Linked DNA regions of Homo sapiens. The protein of the gene in region 2 purifies or fractionates together with the protein of the main gene of each other region. This does not show direct contact. Each region holds a gene or a part of one and is shown on either strand. Other genes may lie near its edges.

Region 1 (3,145 bases), on a different chromosome or scaffold from region 2:
TGGGCATCCTCGTCTTCTCACTGCACTGCCCCAGTGTGCCCATGGCGGGCGTCACAGCCAGCTACGGCGGGAGGTGAGGGCCAGATGGCACCTGGGTACGCGTCGGGGCCCCAAGCACCCGCGGTCCCTGGGCATGGAGGAGGAGTGGTGCAGCACTTGGGAGAGGTGGTTTTGAAAAGGGCTACGTCACAGGACAGCGGCAAGGGCAACACCCGCTCAGCAGGGCACCCGGCAGCATCCACGTGAAAAGGCACCATGCCAGCCCCCAGCAGTGCCTGCGCTTGGGTCCCGGCTGTGCCCCCGGGCAGTCATATGCCTCTCTGGGCCTCAGCACTCTGCTCTGTAGCTGTGTCAAATGGAACAACAGCCCTAGTGTTCGGGGTCCTTGAGGCTGGTCTCTCGGTGACATAAAAAGTGTCCCAGGATGTGCTCCTGGAGTTGCCATGTGCTGGGAGTGGGAGGGACACCTGCTGGTCAGGTGGCAATTAGGGAATATCCAAAATACACGTAGGTAGCCTGCACCTCGGCCCTGCCCTGCGGGCCCCGGGAGTGCACCTGCAGGTGCCGTGCAAGGCCGAGAAGCACAAAGCAGCCGTTGTGGCATTATCGGAACCTAAGAGTCATCAGGGTGGACGGGGTCACTACGCTGTCCTCACAACAGAGGCCCTGCCCACAAAGGAGTGGAGGAAGCTCATCCTGGGCCACTGCCAAGACATACTGTGAAGTGGGAAAAAGGAAGGAGTTGGACAATGGGCGCAGTGTGCTCTGATTCAAGTGAGAAGTGCAGATGTTTGTGACTGCCGAGGGGCGTGTACGTGCAGACGACCCCTGCAAATGCACAGCCGGCCTGTGGCTGGAGAACCGAGGACTGGGGTGGGGCTGGGGCCACGAGGCTGCCTTTGTGTACTTGGCGCTTTTTCTTTCCTAATGTTTGTATTTGATCCATATGAATGTGTTGCCTGTCCAAAAACAAATGAACTAGGGAAAGGGGCTGTGCATCAGGCGGACGGTGCTGGGGGGCATGGGTGTGCCTTCCTTGCGTGAGGAGGAAAAACCATTCTATCACCAGAAGGCAGTGCCCAGTGTGAGTGCCCAGCGTGCTGGGGGCGGTGCAAGCTTGGCAAGTTTGTAGACCCGAAATGCAGGCTGCATGGGGACGAGCCCCATGGCTGACCCTGTGCCTGCTGGGCGCCAGCATGGCTCTGGCCTGGACCCTACCACTCGCTTGTCCCCCCTCTGCAGCCTCCTGCCCGAAGGCCACCTGAACCTAACGGCTCCCTGCAACGCTGCCTGCAGCTGCCAGCCAGAACACTACAGCCCTGTGTGCGGCTCGGACGGCCTCATGTACTTCTCACTGTGCCACGCAGGGTGCCCTGCAGCCACGGAGACGAATGTGGACGGCCAGAAGGTGAGTGGAGCCGCTGCCTACCGCCCCTGTCCTCCCCTGGACCCTGGGAAGGGGCCCCCGTGCCTTCCCCTTGTAATCGGAGCTATTGTTGGGCTTCCCAGGTGTACCGAGACTGTAGCTGTATCCCTCAGAATCTTTCCTCTGGTTTTGGCCATGCCACTGCAGGGAAATGCACTTCAACTTGTCAGAGAAAGCCCCTCCTTCTGGTTTTCATATTCGTTGTAATTTTCTTTACATTCCTCAGCAGCATTCCTGCACTAACGGCAACTCTACGGTAAGCTGGGGTCGGGTGTGCGCTTGTCCAGAGCTTTCCTTGCAGCACCCTGAGGCGGAGCTCTGCAGATCCTGAGACAGGAGCACTCCAGGAAACACCCAGGTCTAAGCGGGCCTGTCTGTCACTGGTGGCAGGAGAGACCTCACTGTCTCTGATCTCTGACGAGGGGCTTCCCACTTGGGGGGGGGTGATGATGTGGCTGGGGACTGGTCCAGGAGGCCACTGGCCTAGGGGGTGACTTGGCATGCAACCCCACTTCTGTGGGTGCTGACGCTGTGGTTTTCTATTGCAGATGTGTCCGTGACCCTCAGAGATCCTTTGCCCTGGGAATCCAGTGGATTGTAGTTAGAATACTAGGTACTGTGCAGTGTGAGGAAGCCATGGTCAGTTGCACAGTGTGCTCACTGCACAAGGGCATGGGCAAGTGTCTAACCACCAAGGGGATGTGCTTCCCAGCAGGAGGCTGTTCCCGCCTGGGAAGGGGTCCATTCCCTAACTGTCCACTAGAGGGGCCCATCGTCATTTATTTGCCCAAAGGCTTTCCCTGGGAGATCATGGGAAACTCGCAGCCCCAATGCCGAATGCCCAAAGAAAGGAACGTTTAAGCCCTCTTTGCACCCCCTGAGAACTCCAACGGCCAGTATCACCTTCCCAGAGCCCATCATTCCAGGCCTCTTGGCTGCCTGCCCCCTGCCTAGCCCCTACCCACCAGGAGTGTGGGTGCTGAGTGGGCTTCTCTCCGCAGGGGGCATCCCGGGGCCCATCGCCTTCGGCTGGGTGATCGACAAGGCCTGTCTGCTGTGGCAGGACCAGTGTGGCCAGCAGGGCTCCTGCTTGGTGTACCAGAATTCGGCCATGAGCCGCTACATACTCATCATGGGGCTCCTGTACAAGGTAAGCAGGCCCAGGGAGGGGACAGAGGGTCTGCTCTGAGGGTGGCTGGGGGCTCCGAACATGCCGCGATCTTCCAGCAGCTTGGACCACAGCCTAGTACATCACAGATGTTCCTGCAGCCAGTTTGTAGAAGGCCCTTCCCACATTCCTCATGAGTTGGTTGTGGGGAGAGGCAGGTGGGCTGCAGGGCCTCCTCCTGGGGTTCACTGTCCAGGCCCCCAGCAGCTCCAGCAAAGCCCAGGCCCAGGCCCTGCTCCCTCTCCCACCTCCTGGGACTGCCCCTCCACAGTGTGGTCTTGCACGTACCCGGGATGCCCGTTAACTAAAAGCTTTGCAGAAATAAGAAGTGGCTGCTCCTGTTAGAGCGGCTTGACTAGCTGGTCCACTCCGGGCCTCAGTCTGGGGGGCTGGCGGGCAGGTTGCAGCCTCTCCGTGATCAGTGCGCCTTGGATTCCATTGGATCTCTTAGTCTGGCCCTCATTTTTCAAGCTAACAGAAACTTTCTGTTGTGACTTTTGGCGTATGCTACCTGGGAGGAAACGCAGTATTTGTGTTTGGAATTTGCCCCC
Region 2 (3,500 bases):
ATAGAGGCACAAATGATTTCCTAACTGAAATGTACTCGGACCTTCCCATTACCCACAGTGACACTGCACACACCTTCCCACGGTCTCACTCGGGCCTTCCCGTTACCCACAGTGACACTGCACATATCTTCCCACAGTCTCAGACTTATGTCCTCTTCAGATGAAGCATGAAAATATCAGCATTTGATTACTCTGGGAAAATCCTAACCTTAAAATGCCATTCATCCTCATTTCCTGTGTAATTGTGGTGGTCAATTTATTCCAACTCCAAGAGTAATCCATCAAAATTACTTTATAAGCCAAAATTACTAAGCCCTAAATAACCACACAGCAGGCATTTCTGTACCAAGGGAACCTGGCTGCTGTGAAGGGACATCACATGCTTCCCAGCCCCTGGCGAGCAGGCCACAACCTCCTGCCCATCGTTTGCATGACATCACTGTGTGAGCTGCAGCTACGTGCCCTACCAAGGGTAAACAAGGTTTTCACATGACTGGCCAAAAGATACCACCAAAATCAATTTGGAGAAGAAAAGCTAAAAGAATAGAATTGTGTACAGCATACCAAACAGTTGGCTGACAGAAGAATTCCTTAAAATGGGGTGTCAGTTTTTCCTCTAGAAAAAAAAAAAATGCATCATTTGCTCTTTTCATCTGTAACATAAGATTTTCGTCTTTCAGGTCACTATTTCAAATAATCCATCCACCAAGAACGATTGTGACCTTTGAAAAAGGTGAAACACTGGGGGAAGATACGGCCTGACATGATTTACACGAACATACGTCTCCCTTGGACTCACAGCTCACACATCCTCTTTCAGAAGCCAACTAGGCCTCCTTCTCAAAGCTATGCAGCCTCACCCCATTGTCTCTCCTATCAGAATGTTTCCCAGAGGCTCTACCTGGGAGATGAAGAGGTAAGTGACAAAGAACCATAAAAAGCACCTTAAAAATACAAACAGGTTTCCTCTAAATGAAAAGGACCAAACCAGGACAAATTAACCCTCGCCTGGGGCACAACAGAGTGTACTTCAGGCCTGCACACCTCAGGGTCCCCAGCCAGGCCTCCTGCCATGAAGCAGCCGCACCTGGAGGGGGACCTGCCACCTGGTCACGGGCAAGCACCCTGGCATAAGGGTACTTTTCCCTTCAAATGTTTTTTCACTATGATTCACATACCATAAAATTCACCCTTCAAAAGTGTACAATTCAGTAGTGTCTAGTATATTCAGAGATGTACAGCCATCACTGCCATCCAAGTCCACATTCTCATCACACCAACAGGAACTCCTGTTCCCTTTAAGTCAGTCCCACGCCCCTCTCCTGGCCCGTGGCAACCCTTAATCTACTTCCAGTCTCTGTGGACTCGCCTCTTCCGGGCATTCCACATCAATGGAATCACACAACTGGGGCCTTATGTGTCTGGCTTCCTTCATGCAGCCGAATGTTTTCAAGGCTCATCAGTACTTCATTTCTTTTTTAATGGCTGAAAAATATGCCATTGTATGGATATACTATATTTAGTTTATACATTCATCAGTGAACATTTTCTTATCTTTCATTTAAAAAAATTCCAAATGTATAGAAAAGTTGAATTGCAAAATGCACACCTCTCTACCCTTCACTTGGAGCCTCAGCACTTTTTTCTATACATAAAAAATACTGGCCGAGCGCGGTGGCTCACGCCTGTAATCCCAGAACTTTGGGAGGCCGAGGCAGGTGGATCACCTGAGGTCAGGAGTTCGAGACCAACCTGGCCAACATGGTGAAACCCCGTCTCTATTAAAAATACAAAAATTAGCCAGGCGTGGTGGCTCACACCTGTAGTCCCAGCTACTCAGGAGGCTGAGGCAGGAAAATAGCTTGAACCAGGAGGCAGAGGTTGCAGTGAGCTGAGATCATACCGCTGCACCCCAGCCTGGACAAGAGAATAAGACTTGGTCTTAAAAAAAAATACTTCTGGGTGATCTACATACAAATAAGCTCCAGCAACCAATTTCACCCCCAAAATTTCATCATGAATCTCCTGGAAATAAGGACATTCTTTTAACGGCAGTGAAATTACCACACCTAAGAAAGGCAACATTGGTCCATTATTAGCTAATAGGCGGTCTACAAACTATCCCAAGCATCCAAGAAGAACGGCCATGAAAGCAGCTGGGATCCAATCACTCAGCACGCGCTGCAGGGGGCGGCCAGGTCTCCCGAGTAGCCTTTCATCCACAAGGTCCTCTTTTAACATGACAGCATTACGTCGGAAGAGATCAGGCCAGCTATCTTTCGGAAGAAGGCACATCTCCTTTCAACATCCACATTTAATTATGGATGAAAGAGCGCATATTCTGTCAGATTCATCTGAGATAACCGAGCACCATTTCCTCCTCATTTTAAGAAGTATCAATTACTCGCCTGTTATATCCTGGAGAGCACCAGCTTTTAAGTCAGGCTGCCAGGGCCCCAAACCAGCTCCCCTAGGCACCTGCTGTGCAGCCTTGGGAGCTAACCCTCTAGGCCTCTGTTCCCTGGACAACAGGCTTAACTGCAGCACACACACCAGCAACTGTGGCGAGGCTTAAATAAGATCACGTGGGAAAGGCACAAGTAAGAGGCATAATAGAAGCTTTCCAGTACACCTGTGTGGGGTGGCCAAGTCTTTAAAAGATAGAGGCTGACTGTGCTACCAGCCCCGTTCCTTCATGAGCCAATGGCACCCCAAGGCCAAGAGCCTGGGCCTTGAGATCCAGCCCTGCAGAACCATTACGGAACGCACGCACACTGGGCCCATCTTAGTGTGGTAGCTAAAAAAGAACCAGAGCTGGGATAGAAGTCCAGCTTGACCACTCACTACCTACAGGCAGTAAGAAAGTGATCTGTTTTTGTGCCTGTTTCCTCATCAGTAAAGTGGATCTAAGACTCCTGTGAGGTTCAGATTTCGTCACATATGTAAAGCATACGCCACTGTACAAAAAACCCAGTTCCAATTCAGTACATTAGAAACTATCATTTCTAACGTCATTCTAAGGTGTCTCCTGACTGTAACGGATAGCCTTACACAGGCAGAGTGAAAGCTCACATTCAAAGGACAGGCTTTTGAATCCTGGCTCAGTCACATACAAGCTGTGTAACTTTGGGCCAATGATTAAACCTCTCAAGCCTCAGTTTCCTCATCAGTAAAATGGGCACCGTACGTGTCATGTAGACTAAGTAGTCGTGTAGACATGTAGACATGTAGCATACGTGTCATGTGGACTAACCAGATACTGTACTTAGGTACTTAGCAAGCACTGTGCCTGGTGCACAGTAAGCTCTCAGTAAATGTTCCTAAAAAACAGGCACTCACAGATACTTAGGCAAAAGCCTAAGAGTCGCCTTCCCTACTGCTCACATGCCATGGTTTCCATATCTGACCCTCCAAACCTCATGAAGAAATGTGATCCCCAGTGCTTCTCGTGGGGCCTAGTGTTTGGGTCATGGGGACGGATCCCTGAAGAAAGGCTTGGG
Region 3 (3,500 bases), on a different chromosome or scaffold from region 2:
GGCTCCACCCTCTCCTTCTGTGACTGATGAGGCAGGGCCGACTCAGCCACGCTGCTCCACTTCATAGAAAGCCTGGGCCCGAGAGCAAAGGCTCTGGGTAACTGAGGATCCTGGGTGCCTCCTAACCCCACCCAGAGGGTCAGGGCACACTGAGGCTGTTACTCAGCTATGCCCTCAAGTGAGAGGTTCTCCAGGTTCCAGGAACTGACAGTTGCTGCAAGGGCACTGTACAGGTGCTGCGCGTGGGCCAGTGCCTGTGACAAGGTAGGGTACAGAGACCAGGGAAGCATCAGCTGCACAGAGGCTTCACCTTCAACCAGGAACGCCCGAAGGTAGAAGAACTGGCGAGCCTCCAAGGATGAGTCTTTTTCCAGCAATGGCCTAGAGGGAATATGGCAGGCACAGGAAGATCAGCTAGCGGGTGGGAAGGACTTGAAGAGAGGGGAGTGGGAAGAAAGCCCTGCAGGGGGTTGGGAGGAGACACTAGGGGCCCATAAGGGGCATGGCATGAGGACAGGTGGCTGCCCAGGACCTACTCAGCACAGGGCCATGTCTGGGGCTCTGTGGAAAGAGGATTGGGCAGCAACCCCAGCCTCTGCCTCCTATCGACTCACCAGAGCCGGTGCTGGGGGGTGACCTCCTCCTCTGTGGCACTGACACAGTTCCTCCAGGCAGGGGGCAGAGACTGCAAGACATCTAGACAGAGGCAGGCCAGGGAACTTTAGAAGGCTCTGCTCTCCTCCAGCCTAAACTCACCACCTCTCAATCCCTTCCTATTCTCCACATTTCTGGATTTCAGAAACTTCTACAAGGGACAAGTCCTGTTACCTCTCTGTCTCCGCTACTGGGTACCAGGTGGGGAGCCTGGCCCCAAGGCCCTGCCCACCCTCCTGCCCACCCTCCTGCCTTCCCCTCCCCTCTCTCACCAAGGAGCTCCTCTAGGAAGGCCCGGCAATGCCTGGCATCTCGGGGCAGCAGCACACAGCGGCCCGCCCCAGCTGCCCACTCTAGCCGCAGGCTCTGGCCTGCCAGGCCCAGCTCTATGCCACTCAGATCCTGCAGGGGAACAGCCAGGGTCAGCTGCAGCCAGCTAGCTGGAGGCTCACTGTGGAGAGAGGGGACAGAGCAATGGAGAAGCATGAGAGTGGAGTGAGAGTCCCAGAGAGGCCCTGCCCCAGCTGCACCTGCCTCACTCACTGCATCACCCCCGTGCGCTCACCACACCCCATCTTCCCCCTCATTCCATCTCCTCCCTCACTCACCCCATCTCCCCCTCACTCACCCCATCTCCCCCCTCACTCACCCCATCTCCGCCCCCCACTCACCCCATCTCCGCCCCCCACTCACCCCATCTCCCCCTTCACTCACCCCACGTCCCCCCCACTCACCCCACCTCCCCCCCACTCACCCCACCTCCCCCCTCACTCACCCCACCTCCCCCTCACTCACCCAATCTCCCCCTTCTCTCACCCCATCTCCCCCCTCACTCACCCCATCTCCCCCCTTAACACCCCATCTCCCCCCTCACTCACCCCATCTCCCCCCTCACCCCATCTTCCCCCTCACTCCCCCATCTCCCCCCAACTCACCCCATCTCCCCCCTTACTCACTGCATCTCCCCTCTCACTCACCGCATCTCCCCAGTCACCTTCAACAGGTACAGCCTGCGGTCAGACACAACCACAAGGCACATGAACTCCCCAGTGTGGCCTGCCAATGCCACTGGCACCTGGGGGAAGAGGAAGTTGGTGAGAAACCTGATGAGAGGCCTGGGGAGGTGGGGCCAGACTGAAAGCCGAGTTCCTGGTGACAGCACCCTCGGCCTGACCCTCCCACTGCCCACCCACCAGTCTATGGAGCTTCCCTCACACTCGACAGCCTCTTCATCCACCACCGCTCTCTGCCTTGCAGCCCCTGCCCGCTCAGAGCCTCAGCAGCTGGCTTCCCTGCCTGTCGCCTCACCCCCTCCACGCTCCGCCAGACTAACTATTCTAAGGCACAAAACTGACCATCACTGCCCCATTTCAAATCCTTCAGTGGCTCCCAGTGGCCCTCAGAAACAAGTCCAAACTCCTTGGCAGACACAGGAGGCAGCTCCTGACCTGGCCCCTGCCGGCCCCCCAGAGTCCTCTCAGGACCCCTGCCCCTCGCCCTGCATGTCCAGGTGCCCTCATCCTGGGCAGTTCTCCCCACCAGCGACACTCTCGGGCCTCCATGCATTTGCGGCTTCCTTTACCTAAGACATTCTTTTCCTCCCTACTCCTTAACTTACCCTTCAAGACTGAGCTTAGACATCACCTCCCAGGAAGGTTCCTTGACCCACTCAAGCTGGACTAGACACCCCTTCAAGGGCCTTAGCCCGATTACAGCATTTGCATATTGCATAATCATTGTCAGCTTCTCACACCAGACTGTAAGATCAAGGGCAAGATTGATCTGTAGATCCTCAATGTCTAGCACAACAGGTGCTCAACAAAGGCCTAACGACATCATGTGTTTATAATAATGCTAGGAGGCCCCATTGATGAGTGCCAGGTGCTGGGCTGGGCAGCTTCAACATGAGCCCTGACGCACGCCACTGTGTAAGGGAGGCATCGTTATCTCCATTGCAGACAGGCAACAACTGGGACTCAAATACCAGGGAATGTGTCCACGGCCACACAGCAAGAAGCTGCTGGGGTTGAAACCAGAAGCCAGATCAGGTCTCTAGAGTGCTTGATCTGACTCAGTTGGCTGTGATGGAAACGAGTGGGCACCCTGGACAGCTGGGGGCATGGGCAGTGTCAGGGAGCACAGACCTTGAGGCAGCACTGGAACTCCTCCTGGGCATCGCTGAACACCTCAACATCCAGGAAGAGCCGGAGTCGGTGGTCCACAGAGCGGAGGCCACAGCGCTCAGGGGCTGAGGGCAATGAGGGGGCATCAGCCTGCCCATGGCAGCCCCTGGGCTCCATCTCCACCTCCCCATCAGTGCCCCTTCCCTTCCCCAAACTCATCTATGTCTTGTTTTGCCTATACTCACGGGGACTGAGGCTCCAACTACCATGGTCACGGGTGCTCGGTGCCTGAGGTGGGCTGTTCTTGGCCCTGTCAAGGTGGTCACCATGGCCAGGAGGGTGGCAGACAGGGCTGGCAGACGGAGAAGGAGCCAGAGACTGCTCTCCCTGTTTCCGCTCCCTGTTGGGGGTTCCCCGAGACACAGCGAGGAGAACCACGTGGTCACTACCACAGTTAGGACACACAGCAGGAGATTCTGGAGGGAGGATGGACACGGTCCCCATGAGCCCCCCCCACAGTGCCACAACTCCCACCATGCTCACGATGCTCCTTCCCCATGCTCAGGTCTCCCCTGAGCCCAAGCCTCCAGCTTCATACACAACCACCGCGCCCCAGGCCACCAGCTCCCTCTCCCGGCACAGCTGCCAACTGATCACTCCCCACCCCAGGGAGGGATGAGCTAACCCTGGCCCACAAACTCCTCAAAGTGCACTCTACCTTCT
Region 4 (3,500 bases), on a different chromosome or scaffold from region 2:
AAATTTCCTTTGATTCCTGTTCCAAGATGGCCAAATAGGAACAGCTCCAGTCTACAGCCCCCAGCGTGAGCAACGCACAAGACGGATGATTTCTGCATTTCCAACTGAGATACCGGCTTCATCTCACTGGGGCTTGTTGGACAGTGGGTGCAGCCCACCGAGCGTGAGCCGAAGCAGGGCGAGACATCGCCTCACCCGGGAAGCACAAGGGGTCAGGGAATTCCCTTTCCTAGCCAAGGGAAGCTGTGACAGATGGCACCTGGAAAATCGGATCACTCCCACCCTAATACTGCGCTTTTCCAACGGTCTTAGCAAACAGCACACCAGGAGATTATATCCCGCGCCTGGCTCAGAGGGTCCCACACCCACGGAGCCTCACTCATTGCTAGCACAGCAGTCTGAGATTGAACTGCAAGGTGGCAGCGAGGCTGGAGGAGAGGCGCCCGCCATTGCTGAGGCTTGAGTAGGTAAACAAAGCTGCCGGGAAGCTCGAACTGGGTGGAGCCCACCACAGCTCAAGGAGGCCTGCCTGCCTCTGTAGACTCCACCTCTGGGGGCAGGGCATAGCTGAACAAAAGGCAGCAGAAACCTCTGCAAACTTAAATGTCCCTGTCTGACAGCTTTGAAGAGAGTAGTGGTTCTCCCAGGACAGAGTTTGAGATCTGAGAACAGACAGACTGCCTCCTCAAGTGGGTCCCTGACCCCCAAGCAGCCTAACTGGGAGGTACCCCCCAGTAGAGGCAGACTGACACCTCACACGGCGGGTACCCCTCTGAGACAAAACCTCCAGAGGAACGATCAGAGAGCAACATTTGGTGTTCAGCAATATTCACTGTTCTGCAGCCTCCGCTGCTGATACCCAGGCAAACAGGGTCTGGAGTGGCCCTCCGACAAACTCCAACAGACCTGCAGCTGAGGGTCCTGACTGTTAGAAGGAAAACTAACAAACAGAAAGGACATCCACACAAAAACCCCATCTGTATGTCACCATCATCAAAGACCAAAGGTAGATAAAACCACAAAGATAGGGAAAAAAACAGCAGAAAAACTGAAAATTCTAAAAATCAGAGCGCCTCTCCTCCTCCAAAGGAACGCAGCTCCTCACCAGCAACAGAACAAAGGTAGACAGAGAATGACTTTGACGAGTTGAGAAAAGAAGGCTTCAGATGATCAAACTTCTCTGAGCTAAAGGAGGAAGTTTGAACCCAGCACAAAGAAGCTAAAAACCTTGAAAAAAAGATTAGATGAATGGCTAACTAGAATAACCAATGTAGACAAGTCCTTAAATGACCTGATGGAGCTGAAAACCATGGCACGAGAACTAAGTGACGAATGCACAAACTTCAGTAGCCGATTCGAACAACTGGAAGAAAGGGTATCCGTGATTGAAGACCAAATGAATGAAATGAAGCGAGAAGAGAAGTTTAGAGAAAAAAGAATAAAAAGAAACGAAAAAAGCCTCCAAGAAATATGGGACTATGTGAAAAGACCAAATCTACGTCTGATTGGTGTACCTGAAAGTGATGGGGAGAATGGAACCAAGTTGGAAAACACTCTGCAGGATATTAGCCAGGAGAACTTCCCCAACCTAGCAAGGCAGGCCAACATTCAAATTCAGGAAATACAGAGAACGCCACAAAGATACTCCTCGAGAAGAGCAACTCCGAGACACATAATTGTCAGATCACCAAAGTTGAAATGAAGGAAAAAATGTTAAGGGCAGCCAGAGAGAAAGGTCGGGTTACCCACAAAGGGAAGCCCATCAGACTAACAGCTGATCTCTCGGCAGAAACTCTACAAGCCAGAAGAGAGTGGGGGCCAATATCCAAAATTCTTAAAGAAAAGAATTTTCAACCCAGAATTTCATATCCAGCCAAACTAAGCTTCATAGGTGAAGGAAAAATAAAATCCTTTACAGACAAGCAAATGCTGAGAGATTTTGTCACCACCAGGCCTGCCTTACAAGAGCTCCTGAAGGAAGCACTAAACATGGAAAGGAACAACACATACCAGCCACTGGAAAAACATGCCAAATTGTAAAGACCATCAAGGCTAGGAAGAAACTGCATCAACTAACGAGCAAAATAACCAGCTAGCATCATAATGACAGGATCAAATTCACACATAACAGTATCAACCTTAAATGTAAATGGGCTAAATGCTCCAATTAAAAGACACAGACTGGCAAATTAGATAAAGAGTAAAGACCCATCAGTGTGCTGTATTCAGGAAATCCATCTCATGTGCAGAGACACACATAGGCTCAAAATAAAGGGATGCAGGAAGATCTACCAAGCAAATGGAAAACAAAAAAAGGCAGGGGTTGCAATCCTAGTCTCTGATAAAACAGACTTTAAACTAGCAAGGATCAAAAGAGACAAAGAAGGCCATTACATAATGGTAAAGGGATCAATTCAACAAGAAGAGCTAACTATCCTAAATATTTATGCACCCAATACAGGAGGACCCAGATTCATAAAGCAAGTCCTTAGAGACCTACAAAGAGACTTAGACTCCCATACAATAATAAAGGGAGACTTTAACACCCCACTGTCAACATTAGACAGATCAATGAGACAGAAAGTTAACAAGGATATCCAGGAATTGAACTCAGCTCTGCACCAAGCGGACCTAACAGACATCTACAGAACTCTCCACCCCAAATCAACAGAATATACATTCTTCTCAGCACCACATCGCACTTATTCCAAAATTGACCACATAGTTGGAAGTAAAGCACTCCTCAGCAAATGTAAAAGAACAGAAATTATAACAAACTGTCTCTCAGACCACAGTGAAATCAAATTAGAACTCAAGATTAAGAAACTCACTCAAAACTGCTCAGCTACATGGAGACTGAACAACCTGCTCCTGAATGACTACTGGGTACATAACGAAATGAATGCAGAAATAAACATGTTCTTTGAAACCAATGAGAACAAAGACACAACATACCAGAATCTCTGGGACACATTTAAAGCAGTGTGTAGAGGGAAATTTATAGCACTAAATGCCCACAAAAGGAAGCAGGAAAGATATAAAATTGACACCCTAACATCACAATTAAAAGAACTAGAGGAACAAGAGCAAACACATTCAAAAGCTAGCAGAAGGCAAGAAATAACTCAGAGCAGAACTGAACGAGATAGAGACACAAAAAACCCTTCAAGAAATCAATGAATCCAGGAGCTGGTTTTTTGAAAAGATCAACAAAATTGATAGACTGCTAGCAAGACTAATAAAGAAGAAAAGAGAGAAGAATCAAATAGACGCAATAAAAAATGATAAAAGGGGATATCACCACCGATCCCACAGAAATACAAACTACCATCAGAGAATACTACAAACACCTCTACACAAATAAACTAGAAAATCTAGAAGAAATGGATAAATTCCTTGACACATACACCCTCCCAAGACTAAACCAGGAAGAAGTTGAATCTCTGAATAGACCAATAACAGGCTCTGAAATTGAGGCAATAATTAATAGCTTACCAACC
Region 5 (3,500 bases), on a different chromosome or scaffold from region 2:
TGCCCTCCTGGCCACCTTCAGCAGAGCGTCTTCCCAGATGCCTTCTGTAGCCGTGGGGCAGCCCCCTCCTCTATTTCTGTGCCCGGGCTCCCCATTCCTTCCCTCAGGCCCTCAGCAGCCCCGAGGCCTAGCGTGGTTTCCCCACCCATCCCAGGCCCCACGGGCAACCACTTTGTCAAATTCTCTCTTCTGGTGCTCTTTAAAGGAGTGATGGGCCATGGTGAGGCATGCATCGTTTTAGAGTCAGGCCAACTCCAGGTCTGAATCCTAGCTCTGCTGCTCATGACCTGAGTGACCTTGGGAAGCCTATTTCACCTCTCTGTGCCTCAGTTTCCTCATCTGTAAAATAGGAAGGTGTTTCACCTGCTGCATATGATTGATGATTTTGTGAGAAACAGCCTGTGGTAAAAGAGACTGGCACATAGGAGATGCTTCACCACTGTCACCCACCCCCCACCTTCATCTCTCTCAGCAAAATTCACAAACTGGTACTTCCAATTTTCAAAGTTTATTCCCAAAATGCTTCATATCCAATGTCGTTCTATAACCCGCATTAAAGCACAGTTCTATCTCCTGGCTGATTTTCACATTCTTCAAGTTTTTAATGTCTTCTCTAATATCTCCTTTAGGTCAATTTCCTACACAAATTAAATGCCTAAAGGAGCCAGGCAGGTGATGTGTATGGGTGAGATGGCCAGGTGGGGGAGTGGTGGGGACTGTGGCAAAGTAGATGTCACACCCCTCATCTGAAAAGTCAACATCTACTCCGTGCTAAGCAGTGATTGCCATCTGGGCCCAGTATTGGCAGAGCTTCCAAATTTTTAAGAGAAGACAGAAGTCCGGATTTTTTTTTTCTATAAAACTTTCTAATTTCTTGGGGGAAAATTTGTCAAAAAGGATTATGTAAAAGCTCCTGGCTGGGCACAGTGGCTCACATCTATAATCCCAGCACTTTGGGAGGCTGAGGCAGAAGGATCACTTGAGCCCAGGAGTTTGAGGCCAGCCTGAACAACGTAATGGGACCCCCATCTCTACAAAAAATAAAAAAAAAATAGCTAGGTGTGGTGGTGCACACCTTTAACTCTAGTTACTTGGGAGGCTGAGGTGGGAGGATCCCTTGAGCCTGGGAGGTGGAGGCTGCAGTGAGCCATGATCACACCACTGTACTCCAGCCTGGGCAACAAAGTGAAATCCTGTCTTGAAACCCCCCAAATTCCCATATTATAGAGATACAAAATGAAATATTTGAAATGGAATGGTATCTTTGGATTTGCTTCCACATATCTGAGGGTGGGAAGGAAGCAAGCGAGGGAGGGTATAGGATGAAGCAAGATAGGCCTGAGTTGATCATTGTTGGAGCAGAGTGATGGGTGTGTGTTGTTGATGGTACAATTCCTTCTGCATGTTTGAATTTCCTATAATAAAACGTTAAAAGAAACACTGTGCAGGCCAAACAGAAAACACCCACCAGCCAAATTCAGCCTACTTGCCACTGCTTTCTGGTCTGTATTGTTGAGTTGTGTGACCACACAGAACCCTGGGAAACCCATCCTAGCTCAGTGTACACACCTGGCACCGTGAGAGCCCCAGGAAATCTGGGATCTGATTCAGTTAGACTCTGCTCCCCATGGATTTGAGGGGGGTGTCTTTTGTTGCCCCTCAGGTCAGGTCTGAACTCTGCCATTAAGTACTTTAGTGACCTCAAGCAAATCACAGCTTCTCTGTGTCTCTGACTTCTCATTCTTGTCCCTGTCTACACCAGCAGTGTAGGGGAAGGAGAGTCAGCCTGATCCAATTATGGACCAGCACGGCCTAGGATTGGGAAGCCTGTTTTCCCTGAAACATGTCTGTGGAACATTTTTCTCCTTGCCTGTTTGTGGAAGCCTGTGATTCTCTCCAGAGCCTTTCATACTATCATGAGACACAACACTGAAAATACACACCCTCCTGGGAAGCATGCGGCCTCCACTTAAGTGTATTCACAGCACAGCATCTAGAATTGAAGGCAGAGCGTGATGGACATGGGCTGGCAAGTACACACAAGGCTTAATTAAGGAAGCCAGGAGGGAGAAAGAGGAAGTACAGATCATGGGGGCGGGACAGGACAGGCTAATCTCCAAGGCAACAAGTTCCCCAAAAAAGCTCTGTGAGGTTTCAAAATATCTTAAATAGTGCCCCCAAAATTCGGAAAAACAAGATTATTTATTTATTTATTTATTTATTTATTTATTTATTTATTTATTTAGAGATGGGTTCTCACTCTGTTGCCCAGGCTGGAGTTCAGTGAGGGCTGTGATCATGGTTCACTGCAGCCTCCACCCCCTGGCTCAAGTAATCCTCCCGCCTCAACCTCCCGAATAGCTGGGACAAAATAGGTGCAGGCCACCATGTCCCACTAATCTTACAATATTTTTTGTAAAGATGGGGTCTCTATGTGTTGCCTGGGCTAGCTCAAGTGATCCTTCCGGCTCGGCCTCCCAAAGGGCCAAGATTTCAGGCATGAACCATCATGCCTGGCCTGAAAAATGAGTTTTTAAATTGAATATCATCCTACAAACAAGGTTATTCATTGCAGCATTATAACACAAAGGATTATAAAGCAAAGCATTGGAAAGAGCTTAAAAGTCCTCTGACAGGAAAAAGGTGAAATAAATTAGGGTATTTCCATTTAATAGGTTCTGTGTAGCCTTAAAAAGAAAAGAAAAAGAGGAAGACAGAACTCTGAGCACTGATATGGAATGATGCCATTTGTATAAAAAGTGGGTGGGGGAAGTCTATGGACTTGCATTTATTTATTTATAGATAAAATATATCTGGAAGGATTTATAAGAAACTTATAACACTGGTTACCAGTGGGCCACCCCCCAGAAACATCCACATTCGAATCCCCGGAAACTGTGAATATGTTGTAGAAGGGACTTTGTAGATGTGATTAAATTAGTAATTTTGGCATGGGGAGATTGTCCTGATTTTAAAGGTGGTCCCAATGTGATCACAAGGATCCTATAAAAGGAAGGCAGGAGGATCAGTGTCAGAGGTAGGAGATGTGACAACAGAAGCACAGAAGCAAGAAGAAGCTGGTTTGCGTTTTTGGGGGGTTTTTGTTTGTTTTCGTTTTTTGTTTTTTGTTTTTTTTGAGACAGGATCTCATTCTGTCAGCCAGGCTGGAGTGTGTTGACGCGATCTCAGCTCACTGTAGCCTCCACTTCCTCAGGCTCACGTGACCCTCCCACCTCCGCCTCCCAGGTAGCTAGGACTACAGGCATGCACCACCACACCTGGCTAATGTTTGTCTATTTTTTGTAGAGACGTGGTCTCACTTTGTGGCCCAGGCTGGTCTCAAACTCCTGGATTAAGGAGATCCTCCTGCCTCGGCTTCTCAAAGTGCTGGGATTATAGGCATGAGCCACTGGGCCCAGCCAAAGCTGCTGGTTTTAAAGATGGCAGGAGGGGTCATAAGCCAAGGCCTGCAGGCAGCCTCTAGAAGATGGAAAAGGAAA
Region 6 (3,500 bases), on a different chromosome or scaffold from region 2:
GACAAAATCCTATCTCTACAAAAAATAAAAAAATTAGCCGGGCGTGGTGGTACACATCAGCTACTCAGAGGCTGGGGCAGGAGGATCATTTGACCCTGGAAGGTTGAGGCTGCAGTGAGTTGAAATCATGCCATGTACTCCAGCCTCAGCAATAGAGTGAAACTCTGTCTGAAAAAACAAAACAAAACACACACACACACACACACACACACACACACACACACACACACCACATACTGACAGCATTGTCCTGTTCTATGAACACAGAAGTAAAAACTCACCCCTGACCTCAAACAGCTGTCTATTTGTAAATAAAGGATATAGACAGACAAGTAACAAAGTTATTATAAATAACTGCTATATCCAATTGGTACTACAGGAGTTCAGAGGGCAGGAATAATCAGTAAGAACTCAAGCGGCCAAGAAAGGCCTCAAGAGAAGGTGGACAGTGAAGTAAGAGGAAGGCATGAATAAGCAGAAAGAAGGGGTAAGGCAAATCCAAGCAAGAGAATAGTGTGAGCAAAGGCATGGTGGCAGAACTTGAAGAGGATCTCTAGACAGACTGTTTGGTTGGAACTACACGTTTAGTAATGAGAGTAGCTAAAATACAAAATTGGAAAGTTAAGAAAGGGGCCAACCACAGCAGGTTTTAAATGCCAAGCTAGGCCGGGCGCAGTAGCGCATGCCTGTAATCCCAGCACTTTGGAAGGCAAGGTGGGTGGATCACTTGAGGGCAGGAATTATTCAAGACCGTCCTGGCCAACATGGTGAAACCCCATCACTACTAAAAATAGAAAAAATTACCTAGACATGGTGGCAGGCACCTGTAATCCCAGCTACTTGAGAGGCTGAGGCAGGAGAATTGCTTGAACCAGGAGGTGGAGGTTGCAGTGAGCTGAGATCGTGCCATTGCACTCCAGCCTGGGCAACACATGTGAAACTCCGTCTCAAAAAACAAAACAAAACGCCAAGCTATTGGGAGGATGAGGCAGGCAGATCACGAGGCCAGGAGATGGAGACCATCTGGCTAACATGGTGAAACCATGTCTCTACTAAAAATACAAAAAATTAGCCAGGCGTGGTGGCGTGCGCCTGTAGTCCTTTGCCACTTGGGAGGCTGAGGCAGGAGAACTGCTTAAACCTGGAAGGTGGAGGTTGCAGTGAGCTGAGATCGCGCCACTGCACTCCAGACTGAGCAAAAGAGCCAGGTTCTGTCTCAAAAAAAAAAACAAAAAAAAAAACAAGCTAATGAGTTTGGGGTTCAACCTCTAAAGAACAAAGAGCAATGAAGATTTTTGAGCAAGAAACATCATGGGTACAAAATAGTAACTTAGAAAAATTAGTCTGTGATGAGACCTGGGTCACCGTTTACACAAAGGTGGAATGGAAAAAAGAAACAAGTCAAACAGAACACTAATTCAATAGTCTAGGTTTAAGGTTAGGAGGACACAGTATCAGTAATAAAATCATAAAGAAATGAATTTAAGAAACATTTTGACTGGTGGTGGGGAAAGAGAGATAAAGTCAAGAATGACTGAAATTTCAAACCTGGAAGAGTGATGGTAATACTAAAAGCAAATTTAGATGAGCAACCCTTTTCTTCTGAGATTTTTATTTTTGCATAAACAAAATTATAACAATAACGGGGAGGACATCATTCCCTAACCTTACCGTGCAAAAATATTATCATAACTTTTAAATACATCATAAACATTTTCCATGTTACCATACTCTTCACAATTATGTTTTTGTTTTTTTTTTTTTTGAGACAGGGTCTTGCTCTGTCACCCAAGCTGGGGTGCAGTGGTGTGATCTCAGCTCACTGCAGCCCCAACCTCCCAGACTCAAATGATCCTCTCACCTCAGCCACCTGAGTAGCTGGGACTACAGATGTGTACCACGATGCCTGGCTAATTTTTTTTTTTTTTTTTTTTTTTTGAGACGGAGTCTCGCTCTGTCGTCCAGTCTGGAGTGCAGTGGCACGAGTTTTTTTTTTTTTCTTTTTTTGAGATGGAGTCTCGCTCTGTCACCCAGGCTGCAGTGCAGTGGCGCGATTTTTTTTTTTTTTTTTTTTGAGAGGGAGTCTCGCTCTGTCACCCCGGCTGGAGTGCAATGGCACAATCTCAGCTCACTGCAACCTCCGCCTCCTGGGTTCAAGCAATTCTCCTGCCTCAGTCTCCCGAGTAGTTGGGATTATAGGTGGCCACCATCACGCCTGGCTAATTTTTGTATTTTTAGTAGAGATGGGGTTTTGCCATGTTGGTCAGGCTGGTCTCAAACTCCTGACCTCAGGTGATCCGCCCACCTCGGCCTCCCAAAGTGCTGGGATTATAGGCATGAGCCACCGTGCCTGGCTAATTTTTGTAGAGATGTTGCCCGGGCTGGGTCTCAAACTCCTGTACTCAAGCAATCCACCCGCCTCAGCCTCCCAAAGTTCTGGGATTACAGGTGTGAACCACTGTGCCCGGCCATGATCTTTAATCGCTTACATATATTCCATCAAGTTGACCTAAATTTTATGTAAATAATCCTTCTAGATTTTTCACAGTTATTAAATATTATAAAGTAAGCCCCAATGTAATGGCTAATATTTATATAGTGCTTAAATTGTACCAGTACTACTGTAAGTGCTTTACATAATAATTCATTTATCTATACAATGACCTATAAATTAGGCATTATTATAGTCCCAACTTTACACATCAGAAAACCAAAGCACCACAGAGGCTATGTAATTTGCCCAGGATCACACAGTAAGTGACAAAGATGGATTTAAATCCAGGAAATTTGGCTCCAGAGTATATAGACTCTGTGTGTGTGTGTGTGTGTGTGTGTGTGTGTGTTTACCTTCAGAATTTTTTTTCCCCTTAGGGCTAATTAGCATGAGTGAGAATATTAGGTCAAAAGGCACAAACTTTTCTGTGATGTTAAGTATTGTCAATGAACTTAGTTAAGGGGTTTGGGAGAAACATGAGAAACTCAGTATAAGACAAGTTTTATATGAAGGTAGTTTATTTCAGGAGGAGATGTCAGAACATGAATTGAAGATATGGGCCACGCACTTAGAGGTGAAGGGGTTAGATTGGAAAAAGATCTGAGGTCATGATCATAAAGGTGAAAGGGAGGTCATAAAAGCAGGTGACTCCTAAGGAGAAAGCATACAGTGAAATAATTCGAGGATCAATGGCACAACCTTGGGGCATGCCCACTCTTAGGAGGATATGAAGTCCGGGAAGGAGGCTGACTCAACCTGGGGATCTCCAGAGTTGGGGGACACAATGAAAGAGAATCATGGCAAGAAGAAAGTTTCAGGGCAGACGGGATAGGCAAGAGGATCAAAGGAAACAGAAAAAAAGTGAATAGGCCAGGCATGGTAGCTCACACCTGCAATCCCAGAACTTTGGAAGGCCGAGGCAGGCGGATCACTTGAGGTCAGGAATTCAAGACCAACCTGGCCAACGTGGCAAAACCCTGTCTCTGCTAATAATACAAAAATTAGC
Region 7 (3,500 bases), on a different chromosome or scaffold from region 2:
AAACCTTTCTTAACCGCAAATTATTAAATTATTATTTTTTAATTTTTGGAGATTTTTTCCCCCCTGGAGATGGAGTCTCGCTCTGTTGCCCAGGCTGGAGTCCAGTGGCATGATCTTGGCTCACTGCAACCTCCGCCTCCCAAGTTCAAGTGATTCTCCTGCCTCAGCCTCCCTAGTAGCTGGGATTACAAGCATGTGCCACCACACCTGGCTAATGTTTTTATTTCTAGTAGAGGCAAAGTTTCACCATTTTGGCTAGGCTGGTCTCAAACTCCTGACCTCAAGTGATCCACCCACCTTGGGCTTCCAAAGTGATGGGATCACAGACGTGAGCCACTGCACCCGGCATTAGCTGCAAATTATATAAAAATATAGATCAAGTATTTTATATGGCAGTTTTAATTTAGCATCTGCATTGTAATGTTGTATAAACACCATATTTCAAAGACAGTATGAAAACAATGTAAAATACCTCAGCTTTTCATTATGATTACATGTTGAAATTATAATTGATTTCACCTTGTTTTCTTTTAGTGTGAACAATAGAAAATTTTAAATTACTTATGTCACTTTTACTGTATTGCTGCTGGACAGTACTTTGAGCTAGATGTTCCTATGTGTTTACCATGTCTTAATTTCTTCCTGCGTCTCTGACTTTTCTTTTGGAATCTTTTAACTTTTACTTTAGCACACTCAGTAGAAGTTTCATAATGCAGACATTCTGATGGTCAGTTCTCTTAATTTTTTTGCTTTGTCTTAATTTTTTGTTTTGCCTTCAATCTTGAAGAATGTTTTGGGGGATATTACAGATTTGTGGTTGTTTTACTTGTACCTTGAAGATAACATTTCACTGTTTTTGGTTTTCATTATTGATTTTGAGAAATCAGCTGTCAATGCATTAGGTTGGTACAAAAGAAATTGTGGTTTGGGACAGCGAATTTTAAATCATTATAACGAGGCTCTAACATATCTTTATTAATTAAAATAGGTCATTACAATCAACACATTTTTGCCGACAAGAAATAAGTTTGTTTTTTCCTGTAATGTAAAAATCCATGCTTCAGGATTCCACAAACTCTTGGAAAGCTTTTTCCTGCATCCTGCTGGTTGTGGAAGCATTTTCCCTGAAAAAAGTTGTAGAGATGCTTGAAGGAGTGGTAGTCAGTTGAGAGGTCAGGTGAATATGGCAGATGAGGCAAAACTTTGTAGCCCAGTTCGTTCAACTTTTGAAGTGTTGGTTGTGCAGTGTGCGGTTGGGTGTTACTGTGGAGAATTGGGCCCTTTCTGTTGACCCATGCTGGCTGCAGGCATCACAGTTTTAAGTGCATCTCATTGATTTGCTGAGCATACTTCTCAGATGTAATGGTTTCTCCAGGATTCAGAAAGCTGTAGTGGATCAGACCGGCAGCAGACCAGCAAACAGTTACCATGGCCTTTTTTGGTGCAAGTTTGGCTTTGGGAAGTGCTTTGGAGCTTCTTCGCGGTCCAGCCACTGAGCTGGTCATTGCTTGTCATATAAAATCTAGTTTTTGTTGCACCTCACAGTCCGATTGAGAAATGGTTCGTTGTTGTGGAGAATAAGAGAAGACAACACTTCAAAACGGTGTTTTTTTAAATTTTTGCTCAGCTGGTGAGGCACCCACTTATCGAGCTTTTTCACCTTTTCAATTTGCTTCAAATACTGAACAACTGTGGAATGGTTGACGTTGAGTTCTTACGTTGAGTTCTTCAGCAACTTCTCATGTAATTGTAAGAGGATCAATCTGCTTCAATGATTGCTCTCAATTGGTTGTTGTCAACTTCCAGTGGCCTGCCACTACACTCCTCATCCTCAAGGCTCTGGTATCTTTTGCAAAACTTCTTGAACCACCACTGCACTGTACGTTCATTAGCAGTTCCTGGGCCAAATGCATTGTTGATATTGCAAGTTGTCTCTGCTGTTTTACGACCCACTTTGAACTTAAATAAGAAAATCACTCAACTTTGCTTTTTGTCTAGCATCATTTCCATAGTCCAAAATAAATATAAACAGCAAGTAATAAGTCATTAGCCAAAAAAAAAAAGCAAGAAATGCCCATTAAAATGACATATAACATAACCACATTTATTTAAGAATGTATTCCAGGCCGGGTGTGGTGGCTCACACCTGTAATCCCAGCACTTTGGGAGGCTGAGGTGGGCGGATCACGAGGTCAGGAGATCGATACCATCCTGGCTAACATGGTGAGACCCTGTCTCTACTAAAAATACAAAAAATTAGCCAGGCGTGGTGGCGGGTGCCTGTAGTCCCAGCTACTCAGAAGGCTGAGGCAGGAGAATGGTGTGAACCCTGGAGGCAGAGCTTGCAGTGAGCCGAGATCGCGCCACTGCAGCCCAGCCTGGGCAACAGAGAGAGACTCCATCTCAAAAAAAAAAAAAAAAAAAAAAAAATTCCAATATCAAATGGCAAATTCCAACAATGCAAAAACCACAATTAATTTTGTACCAACCTAATAATTCATGCTGCTTTGAAGGAAATCTCTCTTTTAGAATTTTTTTTTGTTTGTTTCTTTTTTTGGTTGTAATTTTTCTGCTGTTTCACTCTAATCTTTTTGTGTGGAATTCTTTTCTTCTTTTTTTTTTTTCTCCTAGTCAAGTGTGGTTGTGGGGGTAGAGGAAATGTTCAATCATCGTGTGGCATTCTTTATCTTGCCCTGTATTCATCGAGATTATTAGATCAATGCATCAGTATCTTTTTAAAGATATTGGTGATATTCTTACTGTTTCTGGTTACCTGCTGAAAATTACAATCTTGCTTTTATTGGCCTAGTATAGTTGCTCCTTAGTATCTGCTGGAAATTGGTTTCAGAACCCCGTGCAGATACCACAATCCACAGGCAGCTCAAATTCCTTATATAACATGCCATCATGTTTGCATACGGCCTACACACATCCTCCCACGTATTTTAAATAATCTCTAGATTGCTTATGGTACCTAATACAATGTAGATGCTATGTAAATATTGTTATACTGTCATGGCTTTTTAAAAATTTCTATTATTTTTTATAGTCGTGTTTTTAAAAATATACATGTATTTTTAATCCTTGGTTGAGTGAATCTGTGGCTATGAAGGGCCGACTATATTCATAGTTCATTTGTTGTTTGTTGAAGATAATTCCAGTTTCTAAATTTTCTAAGTCTGTGTCTGCTAGCTTATGATATTTTTTTCTTGTGTGCCTTGAGTACCAGTTGTATTTAAAAAATTATAGGAATATATGAGTCCTAGAATAATAGTATCTTTTTTAAGAAGGTACATTTTTCTAGGAAAGGTCTCTAGGAGTGCTTTCAGTCCCAAGTCACTATTCATGTTCAAGAGTTGGGATTCCTTCTGTTATACACATGACATTAAGGAAGACTTTAAGATCATGAATTCTATTTTCCTTCAATTTCCTCTTATCCTAATGATGTTGTCCTTAAACTCTGAACATAAATTGGGTAGTTTATCTGAGTCCCCAGCTTT

The links.
Region 1: the proteins of SLC15A4 (region 2) and SLCO4A1 fractionate together in Homo sapiens (co-fractionation; one large-scale study listed by BioGRID). This does not show direct contact.
Region 3: the proteins of SLC15A4 (region 2) and STK11IP purify together in Homo sapiens (affinity purification with mass spectrometry; one large-scale study listed by BioGRID and IntAct). This does not show direct contact.
Region 4: the proteins of SLC15A4 (region 2) and VAMP7 purify together in Homo sapiens (affinity purification with mass spectrometry; one large-scale study listed by BioGRID and IntAct). This does not show direct contact.
Region 5: the proteins of SLC15A4 (region 2) and LGALS9 purify together in Homo sapiens (affinity purification with mass spectrometry; 2 studies listed by BioGRID and IntAct, with this or other methods). This does not show direct contact.
Region 6: the proteins of SLC15A4 (region 2) and STX12 purify together in Homo sapiens (affinity purification with mass spectrometry; one large-scale study listed by BioGRID and IntAct). This does not show direct contact.
Region 7: the proteins of SLC15A4 (region 2) and ORC4 purify together in Homo sapiens (affinity purification with mass spectrometry; one large-scale study listed by BioGRID and IntAct). This does not show direct contact.

The regions. Positions count from the first base shown.
Region 1 is NC_000020.11:62,666,503-62,669,647, forward strand, and holds part of SLCO4A1 (solute carrier organic anion transporter family member 4A1), read left to right. Parts: coding exon 1-73; exon of another isoform or gene 74-119; intron 120-1,242; coding exon 1,243-1,408; intron 1,409-1,509; coding exon 1,510-1,682; intron 1,683-1,974; coding exon 1,975-2,039; intron 2,040-2,427; coding exon 2,428-2,576; intron 2,577-3,145. UniProt on the Homo sapiens protein: Organic anion antiporter with apparent broad substrate specificity.
Region 2 is NC_000012.12:128,817,459-128,820,958, forward strand, and holds part of SLC15A4 (solute carrier family 15 member 4), read right to left. Parts: intron 2,550-3,500; exon of another isoform or gene 1-2,549. UniProt on the Homo sapiens protein: Proton-coupled amino-acid transporter that mediates the transmembrane transport of L-histidine and some di- and tripeptides from inside the lysosome to the cytosol, and plays a key role in innate immune response.
Region 3 is NC_000002.12:219,611,357-219,614,856, reverse strand, and holds part of STK11IP (serine/threonine-protein kinase 11-interacting protein), read right to left. Parts: exon of another isoform or gene 3,496-3,500; intron 3,254-3,495; coding exon 3,023-3,253; intron 2,903-3,022; coding exon 2,799-2,902; intron 1,730-2,798; coding exon 1,632-1,729; intron 1,106-1,631; coding exon 927-1,105; intron 697-926; coding exon 615-696; intron 382-614; coding exon 311-381; coding exon of another isoform or gene 168-310; exon of another isoform or gene 1-167. UniProt on the Homo sapiens protein: May regulate STK11/LKB1 function by controlling its subcellular localization.
Region 4 is NC_000023.11:155,933,345-155,936,844, reverse strand, and holds part of VAMP7 (vesicle-associated membrane protein 7), read right to left. Parts: intron 1-3,500. UniProt on the Homo sapiens protein: Involved in the targeting and/or fusion of transport vesicles to their target membrane during transport of proteins from the early endosome to the lysosome. Required for heterotypic fusion of late endosomes with lysosomes and homotypic lysosomal fusion.
Region 5 is NC_000017.11:27,634,188-27,637,687, reverse strand, and holds part of LGALS9 (galectin-9), read right to left. Parts: intron 1-3,500. UniProt on the Homo sapiens protein: Binds galactosides. Has high affinity for the Forssman pentasaccharide. Ligand for HAVCR2/TIM3. Binding to HAVCR2 induces T-helper type 1 lymphocyte (Th1) death.
Region 6 is NC_000001.11:27,797,219-27,800,718, reverse strand, and holds part of STX12 (syntaxin-12), read right to left. Parts: intron 1-3,500. UniProt on the Homo sapiens protein: SNARE promoting fusion of transport vesicles with target membranes. Together with SNARE STX6, promotes movement of vesicles from endosomes to the cell membrane, and may therefore function in the endocytic recycling pathway.
Region 7 is NC_000002.12:148,014,238-148,017,737, reverse strand, and holds part of ORC4 (origin recognition complex subunit 4), read left to right. Parts: intron 1-3,500. UniProt on the Homo sapiens protein: Component of the origin recognition complex (ORC) that binds origins of replication. DNA-binding is ATP-dependent. The specific DNA sequences that define origins of replication have not been identified yet.